Regions from separate parts of the Homo sapiens genome. Here region 2 is linked to region 1. Evidence: fine-mapped expression QTL. A gene starts in region 1. The other region holds a variant in brackets. All regions are shown on one strand. Distances are between the middles of the regions.

Region 1 (8,698 bases):
AACCCCGTCTCTACTAAAAATACAAAAAAAAATTAGCAGGGTGTGGTGGCGGGCGCCTGTAGTCCCAGCTACTCGGGAGGCTGAAGCAGGAGAATGGCGTGAACTTGGGAGGTGGAGCTTGCAGTGAGCTGAGATTGCGCCACTGCACTCCAGCCTCGGTGACAGAGCAAGACTCTGTCTCAAAAAACGAACAAACAAAAAAACAAAACAAAACAAAACAAAAACCTAAACCAAAACCAAAACGCAGCATAGTCCATGAGAGAGGAAGAGCAGGGCAGGCCTACTCACCTGGGGCTGTCGGGGAGGCTGCCCAGGAAGGGACTCTGAAGTGAGCACCTGGAGGAAGGAGGTTAGTTCTGAGGGACTGGAATTCATCCTGGCATTGGGATCACGGGCAAAGGTCCTGTGGTGACAAGGAGACTGGTGCGAGCCTGGCTTAGCACCATGTGAGAGCAGAGGGGTGGAAAGGCACTAGGTAAGCATGCCTTCGGATGTGAAATGAGGGAGACGGGGACTGGGGGACCCTGACATGAGGGAGGAGGAAAGGAGATGGGACGAATGGGTGACCAGAGGGACCACTAGACCACCGAGGGTGAGAGCTTGCTAATATCAGAGCCATGTGTAGGAGAATGAAGTGCAATCTTGGATAGACCTCCAGTGCAGGTGGTCCAGCCATCAATGACCATAACCACATGCATGATTGTAGGTGGAACCAGAAGAACCACCCAGGCAACTCACAGAACTGGGGAACTAATCAAGTCTTGTTTTAAATGACTACATTACGGGTGGTTTGCCACGTAGCAGTGGATCGCTGAAACAGTTTAAAATATCTATTCAGCCGGGCGTGCGGTGGGTAGCTCACACCTGTAATCCCAGCATTTTAGGAAGCTGAGGCAGGAGGATCTCTCGAACGCAGGAATTTGAGACCAGCCTTGAGCAAAATGGCAAGACCCTGTCTCCACAAAAAGTAAAAAAAATTAGCTGGGTGTGGTAGCATGTGCTTGTAGTCCCAGCTACTTGGGAGGCTGGGACAGGAGAATTGTTTGAGCCCAGGAGTTCGAGGCTGCAGTGAGCTGTGACTGCACCGCTACACTCCAGCCTGGACAACAGAGTGAAACCTTGTCTCTAAAAAAAAAAAAAAATCTACAAACCAGGCAGGAGCACTGAATAGCTCCTGTCTCCCCTGAGACCCTTGTAGACCTTGAGGTCTGTTACAGAGCTCACCAACCTTCTCTTGGTCTAGAATTATCTAAAAAGAGTTGAGTGCAGCCAGAAAGGACTGAATACATGGTGTTCTTCAATCCCATCAAACTGCTGTGCCCTGCAGATGATCCCTGAGTCCAGGTGTTGGTGGGTTGAGGACAAGGCTGAGGGAACAGAGGTGGGAAGAGTGGCCCAGGGCCAGGAGAATGCAGAGTTCAGAGTGCATGACCTGCATCTAACTCTAGATGCTCCAGGGGTCTGAGACCATCTCCAGCAGGGTCTGGAAGGCCCAGTCATTCCCCAGCACGCACAGTCACCACTGGATACTATCTTGCTCTGTGAGTGATGCAAAGGTCCTGGGTCAGTGAAGCCTGTGAAAGAAAGTTGGGACCAGAGTGTCTCTACGGTTGAGGGCTGGGCTTATTTGCTCTCTAAGTATAATTGTAAGAGCAAGTAGAAACACCTATCCTCTCTGAGCTTAAAAGGATCAAAAAGCTCTGACAGTGTCAGTGGTAGGGCTAGTTCAGGGACTGCAGTAGTGCTGGTGCCCACAGGTGGAACCTTCTCCTGCCCTGATTCCCAAGGACTGGTGCTCTCGGAGGGGTCTGGGAGGTATATTTCTCTTTCACAAATACGTGCACAACACATGAATGAGCTACTGGATGAGGGAATAAATGAATGAATGAGTGAAAAAAGCTTCCTTTCTCCTCTCCAGGAGTCAGCAGTCACTGGTTAGTTCCCCACTGCCCACCAGCCTGTGCAGAGGAGGGAGGAGCAACAGGTCATAGATGTGGTTGCAGCTGTTACTGGACAGAGTGGTCAAGACATCCTGTGTCTGCAGAGGCCCTCCCCAGCCCTCACCTGGGCAGTGGAGCTGTTGGCCAGAGAGGCAGTGGGAAGAAGGGTGGGGCTCCCAGAGTCGACCCTGCGGGCTGAAACTGGTGCAGCCTGCACCTCACCAGGCAGAGAATGGATGTGGGGCAGCTTGACACCGAGCAGGGGCTCATCTGAGCCTCAGGGGTGGTTGCTCTATCAAAGTGTTTGCAAGTAAACAGTCCCAGTGCACACCCAGCTGCTCAGTGCCACCTCGTGCACCCAGGGACACTTCAGCCTTGATCACAGGCCTGCACAGGTTCCAGGGGAGGAGACACTCCAGCTTTTTGAGGGAGGGTGAGCATGTGGGATCAGAGACTTTAAGTCCAAATTTCCCCTTAATTTTTTTTTAAATCTTGCAGGTAGTATGCAAACATACATTTAATGTATTATTTTTATTCTCATTTTTTTTTTGAGGCAGGGTCTCCCTCTGTTGGCCAGGCTGGAGGGCAGTGGTGAGATCTTGGCTTGCTGCAGCCTCAACTCAACCTCCCAAGCTCAAGTGATTTTCCCACCTCAGCCTCCCAAGTAGTTGGGACTGCAGGTGCCTGTCCGCCATGACCAGCTAATTTTTAAATTTTTTTTGTAGAGATGGGGTTTTGCCATGTTGCTCAGGCTAGACTCGAACTCCTGAGCTCAAGTGATCCTCCCACCTTGGCCTCCCAAAGTGCTGGGATTATAGGTGTGAGACACTGCATCCGGCTCCCAAATTTCCCCTTTTTATAAGGACACCAGTTGTACTGACCGGGGCCCCACCTCTATGACCTCATCTAACCTTCATTAACTCCTTAAAGGCCCTATCTCCAAATACAGGCACACTGGGGGTTAGGGCTTCAACCTATGGATTTGGGGGATGCAATTCAGTCTATCACAGTGCCAAGCTGCACCTGCTCGGTGAGCCAGAACAGGGGTGGGGAAGGCACCAGGCCCTGGTGCTTCTTTCCCATGCCTGAGTCACTCTACTTGGTTCTAGTAGGGAGAGGAGCATGGGCCGAAGGCAGTGCTGCAACATGGAAGGGGCAGAACATCCCAACCCGCTCTGGGCCCCCAGTGTCTTCTGCTGTACAAAGCAGGTGTTTTCACCCCCCGAGGATGTGTCCTCCCTTCCTGGCTCACCAAGCATTTAAATGTAGACAGAAAATTTATTTATCTGGGGTGCGGTTTCCTCAGGGGGAAGTTGAGGTCACGACCCCTGAGGTACCTTAACCCAAAGGCCTCCAGGGCACTGGCCCCAGAGTCTCCAGCAGGTGCTTCCTCCCTGAATGCTTCCATATGGCAAGATCAGAGCCACAAATGCTGCCCCGACGCTGTTCCGGTAACCGACGTTGCAGACCCAAGAAAGTCTGGGATGGTAGTGGCCAGGAACGGGGTGTGCCACGGCCCCACCTCTCAGAGCAGGGAGGAGGATGCTGGGCCAGCCCTTGGGGACCCCAGGCACCGTGGCCACAGGAGTCAGAGCTCTGCATGTCTGCACCATGTCCTGGGCTCCTGTCCTGCTCATGCTGTTTGTCTACTGCACAGGTGAGGGAACCCCCAGATCCCAAAGACTCCTGCCCCTTCCTTCATCCTGCCCTGCCCCCACGGCCCACATGCATCTGTGTCACCAGGTTGTGGTCCTCAGCCGGTGCTGCATCAGCCGCCGGCCATGTCCTCGGCCCTTGGAACCACAATCCGCCTCACCTGCACCCTGAGGAACGACCATGACATCGGTGTGTACAGCGTCTACTGGTACCAGCAGAGGCCGGGCCACCCTCCCAGGTTCCTGCTGAGATATTTCTCACAATCAGACAAGAGCCAGGGCCCCCAGGTCCCCCCTCGCTTCTCTGGATCCAAAGATGTGGCCAGGAACAGGGGGTATTTGAGCATCTCTGAGCTGCAGCCTGAGGACGAGGCTATGTATTACTGTGCTATGGGGGCCCGCAGCTCGGAGAAGGAGGAGAGGGAGAGGGAGTGGGAGGAAGAAATGGAACCCACTGCAGCCAGGACACGTGTCCCTTGAACTGAAGACAGCAGAGGCACGCATCCCCTTGGAGAGACTGTCATGGAAGAGGGTGGAGTCGCCGCCCGAAGCGCCGAGGAGGCTGAGCCACTCAGCATCTCCTGGTCCTGCAGTGTTGCTGTAAATCCCCATTGGAGACTGCATTAGGGAATTAAAGCTGCTTGTCACTTTTTGCTGAGTTTGGTCTGACTGTTGTGCGACTTCGTAGTACCAGCCTTGGGCAAAGGCCCGGGGCCCCGGGAGACTGGCAGATCACTGTGGTGAGCACTCACCTGAGTCCTTACTTTTGTGGGCCATGGGAGGCAAGGGGTTGACCGAAGCACCCTGGAGGGGCATCCATGCCCAGGACAGGACCCTCTGGTGTCATCTGATTCTGCCCAGCGGTTACAGGGCAAACAAGCTTAGAAAGCACCTGGTCTGGGCCTCCAGGGAGAACAGGAGCCAGGTAATAGGCCTAGAGTGGGTTCTCCACCTTGGTCCTATCGACGTTTTGGGCTGGACAGTTCTTGGTTGTGGGGCTGTCCTGCGGATTGTTGAATGGTGAGTGGTTATCTGTGGCCTCTACCCACCAGATGCCCCTTCCCAGTTGTGACAAACAAAAATGTCTCCAGACATTGCCAAATGTCCCCAGGTGGTAAACTCACACTGATTGTGAACCACTGGTCTAGATGAGCAAGTAAATGCATTTACTTATTTGTACAAGAGAGTGGCAGGTGTCGGCAAACATGTTCTTTTTTTCCTTTTTTTAGGGATAAAGTCTTGCTCTGTGGTCCAGGCTGGAGTGCAGTGGTGCAATCATAGCTCACCGCAGCTTCAAACTCCCAGGCTCAAGTGATTGTCCTGTCTCAGCCTCCTGAGCAGCTGAGACTACAGGCGTGCATCACCATGCTTGGCTATTTATTTAGTTTTATTTTTGGAGAGATGAATGTCTCACTATGTTGCTCAAGCTGATCTCAAACTCCTGAGCTCGAGTGATCCCCCTGCTTGGGCCTCCTAAAGTGCTGGGATTAGAGGCGTGAGCCACTGCACCCAGCCCATTTTCTATAAAGAGCCAGGTGGTAAATATTTTTGGCTTTGTGGGCTATGCGATCTCTGTCACAACTGTTCAATTCTGTCCTAGTAGCAAGAAAGCAGCCACAGACAAACATGTCAACAAAGAGGCATGGCTGTGTTCTTATAAAGCTGTATTTACAGAAACAGATGGGGCTACACTGGGCTGGGTATGGCGCCCAGGCTGTAGTTTGCTGAGCCCTGCTCGGGAGCACTCCAGCTCCTGTCTCCAGGTTTTAAGCAAGCCATGCTTGGTGGGATAATCAGAGTCCCCCCTCAACTTATCTTGCCTGTGACCCCAGGCAGAAGCCTCTGGACCCATGGAGATACCTAGAGGCATGAAGGACGTGGTCTCACTGAGACTGTGTTGGACTGTCTGGGTGAAGTAGCAATGGGGAGCTCCCTGCAGCCCCGGCCCACAGCAAGGCCCCCTGAGCCCGTGGGTGGTGGGTCTGAGTGTGCCTTGCGGAGAGGGACTCTCTACATTGGGTGTTCACACAACCTGTAGACATGCCTCACTCAGAGAGGTGCCGGGCAAACCATCTCCCTTGTAACCCCAACTTGCCTGGGAACGTGCATTCACCCCAGCTAAAAAGATCCTGAGGCATCTCCCCAGAGAGGTGGACACATGTCAGTATCAGCGTTCCATGTGTGGTCATGAGTCCCTCTCTTGTTAAACAGTGGTCTCCAGCACTTTGGGAGGCCGAGGCGGGTGGATCACCTGAGGTCAGGAGTTAGAGACCAGCCTACCCAACATGGTGAAATCTCATCTCTACTAAAAATACAAAAATTAGCTGGGTGTGTTGGCACATGCCCGTAATCCCAGCTACTTGGGAGGCTGAGGCAGGAGAATTGCTTGAACCCAGGAGGCAGAGGTTGCAGTGAGCCGAGATCATGCCACTGCACTCCAGCCTGGGTGACAGAGCGAGACTCCATCTCACAAAAAAAAAAAAAAAAAAAAAAAGAGACAGTGATCTCAGCTTATGCCATACTCTATGCACTGGGTTCTTCCTGCATCAGGCTTTTACCCCTGGGCCAGGCCCACATTTTAAAACATTATTATTTACTTGTTTATTATTTTATTTTAGAGATAGGATCTTGCTATGCTGCCCAGGCTGGACTGCTGTGGCTATTCACAGGTTCAATTCATGATGCTCTACAGCCTTGAACTCCTGGGCTCCAGCGATCCTCCTGTCTCAGCCTGCTGAGTGGCTGAACTACACGTGTGAGTCACTGCACCTGGCCATGGCCCACAGTTTTAAAGACCAGCTAGATGGTTCCAGAGGAACTCTGTCTTCTGCTTGTAACCCGTCCCTCTCTTGCCTCCATCCTTCATGATTCTGGGATTCCATGCTATGAGAAGAGATCTAGAAAGCCGGGAGCTGAGTTGGACTCCTGTATCATCCTCATGCCCCCACCCCACCAGCTCAATGGAAAATGAGACCTGGAACTCAGGCTTGAGGCCAGACTGAGTGTGAGTCTTAGCTCTGGAGGAGTCACTTAAAATCTAAGCCAACATTTCCAATGTTGCATGTAAAGGGGATAATCATAGAACTGATTAACTTATATAAAAAGTTTTTATCTGGCCAGGCGTGGTGGCTCATGCCTGTAATCCCAGCACTTTGGGAGGCCGAGGCGGGCAGATCACCTAAGGTCAGGAGTTTGAGGCCATCCTGGGCAACATGGTGAAACCCCGTCTCTACCAAAAATACAAAAATTAGCTGGGCATGGTGGCGGGTGCCTCTGATCCCAGCTACTTGGGAGGCTAAGGCAGAAGAATTGCTTGAACCTGGGAGGCGGAGGTTGTAGTGAACCGAAATCGCACCACATCACTCCAGCCTGGGTGACAGAGCAAGACTGTCTCTCAAAAACAAACAAACAAACAAACAAAAAGGTTTTATCCATCATGAGTGCTCAACAAAATAATAGTATCATGATTTCCCCATCAGTCACCTGCCTGGCCTTCCCTCTTGTCAAATCCTTTCCTTTAGTCTGAGTCATTTCTCACCTTGACCATTATCTGGTCTCCTTCCCATCCATCCTCCTGCTGCATGCAGTCTATACCCACCACTCCTCATCTTTGTTGCTCCTAGATCCAGCCTTGCATGCATTCCTCCTCTCTAACCCTTTATTGTCTCCCACACTCTAAAGAACATATGCAAGCCACATCTGTAATTTCCAATTTTCTAGTGGCTACATTATTTTTAAACAGTAAAAACAAATAGGTGAAATGATTTTTTAATGATATATTCTATTTAACATAATAAATCCCCAATATTACCAATTCAACCTATAATCAATATAAAAATTAGTTACTAGATAGTTTAAACTTGTTTTTCTTTTGTATTCACACTTCAAAATCTGGTATGTATTTTATATTCATGTCTTGGATAATTTGCTCAAGTGGATAATCTGGTCAGCCAAGTGGTCAAGAGCTACATATGCCTTGTGAAGAGACCACTTTGGTTGAGGGGATGCAATTCAGCCTCCTTCCCATGACACAGCCTTTGAAGGCTGGCTCAGGCTTGGTCCCAAGTCCCATTTCTTGTGCACCCTCTCTCCCTGTTTCTGCCATGTTAAGCCAACTGCAACTGATCAAACACCCGAGTCTCTTGGTTGCTTCTAAACCTTTGCCCAAGCTGTTTACTGCCAGGACTTCCTGTCCCTTTGTTGTGGCCTCCATCTGGCTGCACTGACTCGGGGCTCCACAACTGTCTCAAATCTCACTCCTTGGGCAAGACTTCCCCGAGCTCTTCATGCAGTTATTAACTTCCTCCACTGTGCAAACAGCATGTTTTCCTAACTATATTTAGCTTCTACTGCACAGTTATAAATTTATTTAGCAAAGCTCCCTCCCCTACTAATCTGCAGATTCTCAGTGGGCAGGATCTACTCAACCCATTGATGTGCCTGATAAACACTTGGCAATTAGACAGTTGAATGAACAAATGAATGAATGTGTAACTGAATGAATTTTCGGGTTCCAAGGACCCTGACATTCTGGGATCCCATTAGGTGGCTGGGGTCACCACCTTAGAGAATTGTGATTCCCTAAGAAGGGAGAACCAGCCCAGACCTTCTCGATCATATTAGTGACTGGCCACATTTCCTCTCCTTTCCGATTCTCTCTCTCCCCCACACCCTTACTGCATGACAGTGATGAGAAAATCCACTTGATCAACCAAACTACAACTTTCGGCCTCATCCCTATCCCTCCCTTGCCTTCTGACCAGGGCCACAGTCACCCTGTGGGTTCTTCCTTTTGAGTGTCTCTCACTCCCTTCCTCCTCCATATCTCTGAGACCAGCCTCCAGCCCTGCTGGCCTGCTCTGCTGCCTTCTGGCTCTTTGTTGAACCCAAGACCAGGGTTTATATATGTTAAATATAAATATATTTTTCCATATGAAATGTAAACATATTTTAAACATTAAATATAAATATACATCTTAGATATGGCCTGTGTTGGAATGTGTAATAGATTGAGTATATAATGTCTATTCAATATAAAATTTATATTTATATATGCAGTAATGATTCAGGTTGATTGTAGTTAAGAAAAACAAGCTCCAAATT
Region 2 (8,698 bases), 93 kb after region 1:
AAAATTCCGGGCCAATATCTTTGATGAACATTGATGCGAAAATCCTCAATAAAATACTGGCAAACTGAATCCAGCAGCACATCAAAAAACTTACCCACCACAATCAAGTCGGCTTCATCGCTGGGATGCAAGTCTGGTTCAACATACACAAATCAATAAATGTAATCCATCGCATAAACAGAACTAAAGACAAAAACCACATGATTATCTCAATAGATGCAGAAAAGCCCTTTGATAAAATTCAACATCCCTTCATGCTAAAACCTCTCAATAAACTAAGTGTTGATGGAACATATCTCAAAATAATAAGAGGAATTTATGAAAAACCCATAGCCAACATCATACTGAATGGGCAAAAGCTGGAAGCATTCACTTTGAAAACCACCACAAGACAAGGATGCCCTCTCTGAACACTTCTGTTCAACATAGCATTGGAAGTTCTAGCCAGGGCAATCAGGCAAGAGAAATAAAGCGTATTTGAATAGGAAGAGAGGAAGTCAAATTGTCTCTGTTTGCAGACGATATGACTGTATAGTTAGAAAACCCAATCATCTCAGCCCAAAAACTCCTTAAGCTGATAAGCAACTCCAGCAAAGTCCCAGGATACAAAATCAATGTGCAAAAATCGCAAGCATTCCTACACACCAGAAATAGACAAGCAGAGAGCCAAATCATGAGTGAACCCTCATTCACAATTGCTACAAAGAAAATAAAATGCCTAGGAGTACAACTTACAGGGACTTGAAGGACCTCTTCAAGGAGAACTATACACTACTGCTGAAGGAAATAAGAAAGGACACAAAGGAATGAAAAAACATTCCATTCTCATGGATAGGAAGAATCAATATCGTGAAAATGGCCATATTGCCCAAAGTAATCTATAGATTCAATGCTATTCCCATGAAGACACCACTGACTTTTTCTGCAGAATAGAAAAAAGCTACTTTAAATTTCATATGGAACCAAGAAAGAACCTGGATAACCAAGACAATTCTAAACAAAAAGAACAAAGCTGGAGGCATCACACCACCTGACTTCAAATTACACTACCAGGCAACAGTAACCAAAACAGCATGGTACTGGTACCAAAGCAGATAAATAGATCAATGGTACAGAGCAGAGACCTGAGAAATAACACCACACATCTACAACCATCTGATCTTTGACAAACTTGACAAAAACAAGCAATGGGGAAAGGATTCCCTATTTGATAAGTGGTGCTGGGAAAACTGGTAGCCATAGACAGAAAACAGAAACTGGACCGCTTCCTTACACCGTATACAAAAATTAACTCAAAACGGATTAAAGACTTAAATGTAAAACCCAAAACCATAAAAACCCTGGAAGAAAACCTAGGCAATTCCATTCAGGACACAGGTGTGGGCAAATACTTTATGATGAAAATACCAAAAGCGATGGCAACAAAAGCTAAATTGAAAATGGGATCTAATCAAACTAAAGAACTTCGGCAGAGTAAAAGAAACAATCATCAGAGTAAACAGGCAACCTACAGAATGGGAGAAAATTTTTGCAAGCTACCCATTTGACAAAGGTCTAATATTTAGAATCTACAAGGAACTTAAACAAATTTACAAGAAATAAACAAACAACCCCATCAAAAAATGGACTAAGGATATGAACAAACACTTCTCAAAAGAAGACATGTATGTGGCCAACAAACATATGAAAAACAGCGCATCATCACTGGTCATTAGAGAAATGCAAATCAAAACCACAGTGAGGTACCATCTCACACCAGTTAGAATGGCAATTATTAAACAGTCGGGAAACAACAGATGTTGGTGAGGCTGCGGAGAAATTGGAATGCTTTTACACTGTCAGTGGGAATGTAAATTAGTTCAACCATTGTGGAAGACAGTGTGGCAATTCCTCAAGGATCTAGAACCAGAAATACCATTTGAGACCAGTAATCCCATTCCTGGGTATATACCCAAAGGATTATAAATCATTCTACCATAAAGACACATGGACACATATGTTTATTGCAGCACTCTATGCAGTAGCAACGACTTGGAACCAATCCAAATGGCCATCAATGACAGACTGAATATAGAAAATGTGGCATATATACACTGTGGAATACTATGCAGCCATAAAAAAGAATGAGTTCATGTTCTTTGCAGGGACATAGATGAAGCTGGAAGCCATCATTCTCAGCAAAGTAACACTGAAACAGAAAATCAAACACTGCATGTTCATACTCATAAGTGGGAGTTGAAGAATGAGAACACGTGGACACAGGGAGGGAAACATCGTATACCAGGGCCTGTCCGGGGGGGCTGGGGGTCAAGGGGAGGGAGAGCATTAGGATGAATACCTCATGCATACCGGGATTAAAACCTAGATGACAGGTTGATAGGTGTAGTAAACCACCATGTCACATATATACCTCTGTAACAAACCTGCGGGTTCTGCACACATGTATCCCAGAACTTAAAGTAAAATAAACAAATAAATAAATAAATAAATAAATAAATAAAATAAGTCCCACCAAAACAAAAACTGTTAGAACTATTAAATACATTTGGTAATATTTCAGAATACAAAATCAACACATAAAACCATCTAATGGACAGCCATGATGGCTCATACCTGTAATCCCAGCTCTTGGGGAAGCTGAGGTGAAAGGATTGGTTAGGATCAAGAGAGTTCAATACCAGCGTGGGAAATGAAGTGAGACCCTGTCTCAAAAACAAACAAACAAACGAACAAGCAAACAAACAGGGTTCTTATATTTCTATACTTAATCAACCAAACAGGAAACAAGAAGACAGGACACAACCCAAAATGAAATTAAGAAAACAATTCAATTTACAATAGCATCAGAAAGAATAAAATACTTAAGAATCAAGAAGGGGACTCTTCTATACTGAAAACTATAAAACATTGCTAAAAGAAATTAAAGAATACACAAATAAATGGAAAGAAACATTGCTAAAAGAAATTAAAGAATACACAAATAAATGGAAAGAAAACATTTGTTCATGAATTGAAAAACTTGATATTGTTAAGAAATCAATACAAACCAAAAGAAATCTACAGATTCATTTCAATCTCTATTAAAATTCCAATAATTTTTTTTGCAAAAGTAGAAAAAATTAATTCTAAAATTTACATAGACTATCACAGGACTCCAAATAGCCAAAATGATCTTCTAAAAGAAGAACAGTGTTGGAGATTTCACACTTCCTGATTTCAAAACATACTACAGAGCTACACCAATCAAAGCAGAGTGGTACAGATAGACAGACAAATAGATAGACAGACAAATAGAATAGAATTGAGCACCCAGAAAGAATCTCTTAGTTATATGATCAAATGATTTTAAATAAGGGTAGCAAGACCATTGAGTGGGGAAAGGACAGACTCCATAAAAAATGTTTTTG[A/C]GAAAACTGGATATCCACATGCAATGTGGAAATGGATAAAAGACCCAAATGGAAAAGCCATAACTGTAAAAATCTTAATAGAAAACACTAGGAAGAAGTTTAACAACATTGGGTTTGGAAATGATTTCTTGTATTTGACGCCAAAAGCACAAGAAAAAAAAAAGAAAAAGAATATAGATAAATTGGATTTCATCAAATTGTAAAATTTATGTGCAACAAAGGACTCTATCAACAGAGGGAAAATGCAAATCATGGAGTCAGGAAATATTTTGCAAACATTGTATCTGGTAAGGTGTCCAGGATATAGAAAGAACTCCTACAACTCAACAGGAATAAAAAAATAGAAACAATCTGAATAAAACATGGGCCCAAGACTTGAATAGATATTTCTCCGAAGAAGATCAATAAATGGCCAATAAGCACATGAAAAGATGTTTAGCATCACTAATCATTAGAGAAATCCAAATCAAACCACAATAATACACAACTTCACACCCAGTAGGATGGCGTTACCAAAATAATAGAAAATAACAAGTTCTGGCAAAGATGAGTAGAAATTGTGGAGAAACTATAAAATGATGCATCCACTGTGGAAGCCTTATGGCAGTTCCTCAAAAAATTAAACATAGAATTACCATTTTAACAGAATTTTCACTTCTGGGTATGTGCCTAAAAGAATTCAGAGCAGGGTCTCAAAGAGAAATTTGTACACCCTTGTTCATAGCAGCATTGTTCACAATAGCTAAAAGGTAGAGGCAGCCCAAGTGTCCATCTAATGGATAAATGGGATATAGTATACACACACAAGGGAATAGTATTCAGCCTTAAAGAGAGTGTTCTGGCCCATGCTATGGCACAGATAAACCTGAAAGACATCATGCCAGCAGAAATAAGCTGGCTTCAAAAGAACAAAAATTGTTTCATTACCCTTATATGAGGTACCTAGAGTAGTAAAAGCTACCGTGACAAGAAGTATAATGAAGTTTCCCAGGTCCTTGGGGTGGAGAGTAGGGGGAGAATGGACAGTTATTTGTTTTTTGTTTAGTTTAGTTTTGCTTTGTTTTGTTTTTGAGACTGAGTCTCCCTCTGTCACCCAGTCTGGAGTGCAGTGGCACAATCTTGGCTCACTGCAACCTCTGCCTCCTGGGTTCAAGCGATTCTCATGCCTCAGCCTCCCAAGTAGCTGGGATTACAGGCATGCACCACCATGTTCAGCTAACTTTTGGTATTTTTTAGTAGAGATGGGGTTTTACCATTTTGCTCAGGCTAATCTTGAACTCCTGGGCTCCAGTGATCCACCGACCTTGGCCTCTCAAAGTGCTGAAATCAAGGAAGTGAGCCACCACACCGAGCCGGGCAGTTCTTGTTTAATGGTTGCGAAGTTTTAGTTTGGGAAGATGAAAAATTTCTGAAGATGAATGGTAGCAGTGTGATTGTACAAGTTGATTTACTTAGTGACACTGAAGTGTACACATGAAATGGTGAAGGTAACAAATTTTATGTTTGAATATTTTACCACAGTCAAAAAGAGGAAGATTTATATTTGGCACCATTGCTCTACTTCCAAGAACAGTAGAAAGATACAGTAGTAGGAGAGTGTGCACAAGTATCCAGGACGTCTTTCATTTTTTGCCAGCCCTGCAGCATCCTAACAATCCAAGAGAGCAGGAGGTGCCTCATTACAGGGGACTCAGAATAATGTGAAGAAATCTGGGGCGGGGTGGGGGCATAATGATAGCACACAGGTGCCGGACCCAGTCCAGGAGTGGCCACAAATGCAAGGGCTGCAGAAGAGGGGGAGATGAAGCTGGTGGCAGTGGTAGCAGCTGCTTCAGCTGGAAAGGGGCATCTGTTGCTTTCCAAAGTGGTTCACAGTTGAAATATCTGGCATAGATACTTCATCCTGCCTACCTTTCATGACTAACTATATTTTCATTGCAATATATGCAGTCATAGTGAGAATACCTATTTCCTCCAGATACAAGCAAACGTGAAGGAAATGTGCTTTAGTGCTTTGGCCAACTTGACATGGCAGTCACAAAAAGAGGATGAATATCCAAAGACAACCTTTTCCAGAGATAAGGTTATTATACCATTTATTGTAAATACTGGAAGTGCACAACAATCATTCAGACACCTGGGAAAATGACTTGACCAAATACAATTGTGAAAACAATGAGTAAAGAAAGTGATATATTCTTGGTAAAAGAACCACTGGATCTAGTGAGTAAAGAACCAAAAGGAGATGACCCTAGATTGGAACTTTTAGACCAGGACCTTGGTAACATTGGTCCTGTTTATGCAACAAAAACAAAGCAATACCTTGTCTACCAGTGAGAATCTGAATGAGGGAACAGCAACAGGAAGCAGCAGAAAAAAGGAAAAGAAGCTCAGTGCAAACAGCTGAATGGGGAGATCACAGGGACCACCAAGAAGGTCCAGGGTTTTCTGCTCAGTGCCTTCCCTCTCATACACCTTAGAGCACCCACTGAACAAAGATAACTACCAGTATATTCTAGCTGAGCCTGATCCCCACGCCCTTGGTCCTCAGAAGCTTGAACTTGACTGCTGGGCAAAATTCCTTATTCCTGGAGACCTCTACAGAGGCTGCTTGTATGAACAGGTTTTGTTAGCCTGACATAATTGAGCTCCCCAGTTAAAAGTCTCCAATGACCTGCTGGCTGACTGTGGTTGAACAGAAGGTCTACTCTATGGTACGGGATTCTCATGGGTTACCTTGATATCACCATGGATGAGATGCCACCAGACACTGCTGCCAGACTGGGTTGGTCCCAGTCTTTAGATAACTGTCAAGCTTCCTTAGTTTATGATAAGTTTAACTATTCTTGGGAGAATTAAAGGGAATGAAGTTCCACCAGTCCACTGGCAAACACTACTCTTCTAGCTATAGACAAGGAGACATCCTGGGATTTTATATGAATCTTCCTGAAGAAACAAAGACAGTCAAGTCATTGCCTGATACTTACAAAGATAAGGCCTTGATAAAGTTTAAGAATTATTTGTGTTTTGAGGAAAAAGACTTTGTGACTGAAGCAGAGAAGAGCCTAAAAGAGACTTCCCACAGTGAGATAAGATTTTATAAAAATGGTGTTAGTCAAGGCATGGCTTACAAAGATATTTTCAAGGGGCTTTACTTTCCAGCAATCTTACCAGAAAACAACTGCATAATTTCCATGAACATTGGACTGTGCTTCAAGTATCCTCCAAAGGATCTCACTTACTGCCCTATGAGTGACATGGGCTGGGATGCTCTGGTAGAGCACACTCTGGCTGGTGTCTTGGTGCTAGAAATGGATTCAATCACTGGACAAGAAAGTCCTTCAGGGGCAAACATAAGGACACTGAGGGTCATCTTATTCTACCTGCCTTCTCTCCTTACTTGTATCCTAGGCCAGCCTATGCTAGCGCAACTGTCCACAGATCTCTCTCTCTCTTTCTGTCTCTCTCTCGTGTGTGTGTATGTGTGTGTGTGTGTGCATGTGTGTATCAAATGATCAAACATCTTCATTCAAAAGTCCAAGCCCTGCAGCATCATGAGACAGTGCTACCACACATGAAGAAAATGTTCAAAGGGCACCAAATAGAGATCGCATGATCCAAAGTTATTTCTGATCCCAGAAAAGAATGGCACACAATCAATATGAATAGTATTAGATATCAAAATTATAGTACAATCTCATTTGTTTTTACCATAGATTCAAACTCTCTTTAGCATATTGGAAAGCAGAATCCATGTTCTACTGATGCAATTCCCCTTGACCATCATGAAAGAATTGGACTGAAAGCAGGACATTTCTGAAGTCTCTGGAGGATACGTAACATGACTGTTGGAGGGAATGCACATAGGAAGAGGTAGTGAATTATGTGTCAAGTGCCCCAACAAAAGGCTGTCAGTGTTTGTCTCTGACACATTGTTGGGGAGAAAGGTGGAGTCACAGGACACACTGCCATGGGACCCACGAGACTTGATCCTACATCCCACAGCGGGCAGCCTGCATCAACGTGGTCATGCAGGGATAGAAACACAGCCACAGAAAGCTTTCACCTGCCCAAGCAGCATCTCCCAAGAGCCAGCATGGGTGCTGTCTCTGCTCTGCTTCTTCCTGGACTGTGTCTCAGAGCCCTGAGTTCTCCCTCACCCAGTTTCCCAATCCCCCTCTTCTCCACTGGTTACCAGGGGTTAGGGGAGTGGGGAGGGGAAATAAACGTTTAAAGGGTACAAACTTTTCACTTGGGATGATGAGAAAGTTATGGAAATTCATAATGGTGATGACTGTATCACTTTTTTTTCAGAGGTGGTAACTTGCTCTGTTGCCCAGGCTGGAGTGCAGTGGTACAATGATAGCTCACTGCATCCTTGAACTCTTGGGTCTAGGCAAGCCTCCTGCCTCAGACTCCTGAGTAGCTGGGACTACAGGTGCAAGCCACCATGCCAGGCAATTCTATCACATTGTGAATATACTTAACACCACTGAATTTTACAGTTAAAAGTGATTTAAATGGCAAATTTTATGTTGTGTGTATTCTATGACAATTAAAAATACACTTGTTCAAATGTCAAAATATATATGATGTTATATTCATAAAATTTTCCTTTTCACACTTATATATTTATCCTATTCTAACTCATTCTCATCAATTAAAAAAAGTACTGTAATTACTGGTCATTATGTACTAAATTTTCCATAATTCACATTGAAGCCTTAACCCCCAATATTACTGTATTTGGAGACAGAGCATTACAGAGGGTAATTAAGATGAAATGAGATCATAAGGACCGGCATCCTTATAAGAGGAGATTAGAAAATGGACAACATAAAATGAGATGAGGACAGAGTGAGAAGGTGGTCATCTACAAGTGTGGACACATCTTCAGTTTGTGTGGAGTAACAGTTGAAGGGCTCGCCCATCCTATAATGAAAGTTGGAACAGGTGCCTTGGGCGGGCTCCAGGATTAACTGATCTAGTCACTGCATCCCACTGTGGGACCCCAGAGGGAAAGAAGCACTGTGGAGATTCCTGAGACATTAGAAATGGAGCCTGAGAAATTTCCAGGACACCCACATGGGCTCCAGGTGAAGCAGGGGCCCAGAAGGCCTTGTCTGATCCCTGAGTGTGACGCAGCACCTGGCCACTAGGGGGAGGCAAACTCTGTGAATCCTAAGGGACCTGAGCTCTTGCTCTGAGCCCTGCCCTTGTTAATCACCAGCCCTGGGAGGGAGCCGATTTGCATGGAATGTGATGTCCCTGCCCACTTCTTCACTGAGGGA

What was found. PIP is the estimated chance that this variant, and not a neighbour inherited with it, causes the effect.
Region 2: its variant is fine-mapped to the expression of VPREB1 in whole blood (TOPMed, PIP 0.96).

What each region holds. Positions count from the first base shown.
Region 1 is chr22:22,241,263-22,249,960 of GRCh38, forward strand. VPREB1 (V-set pre-B cell surrogate light chain 1) reads left to right here and starts at 3,524. Exons shown (of 2, transcript NM_007128.4): 1 at 3,524-3,597; 2 at 3,684-4,253. The coding sequence starts at 3,552. The coding sequence ends at 4,075. It also overlaps IGL.
Region 2 is chr22:22,334,459-22,343,156 of GRCh38, forward strand. It overlaps IGL and the pseudogene ASH2LP3. Among named protein-coding and RNA genes, the nearest start is that of VPREB1, 94 kb to the left of the region's middle. The variant A/C (reference allele first, on the strand shown) is at 3,408.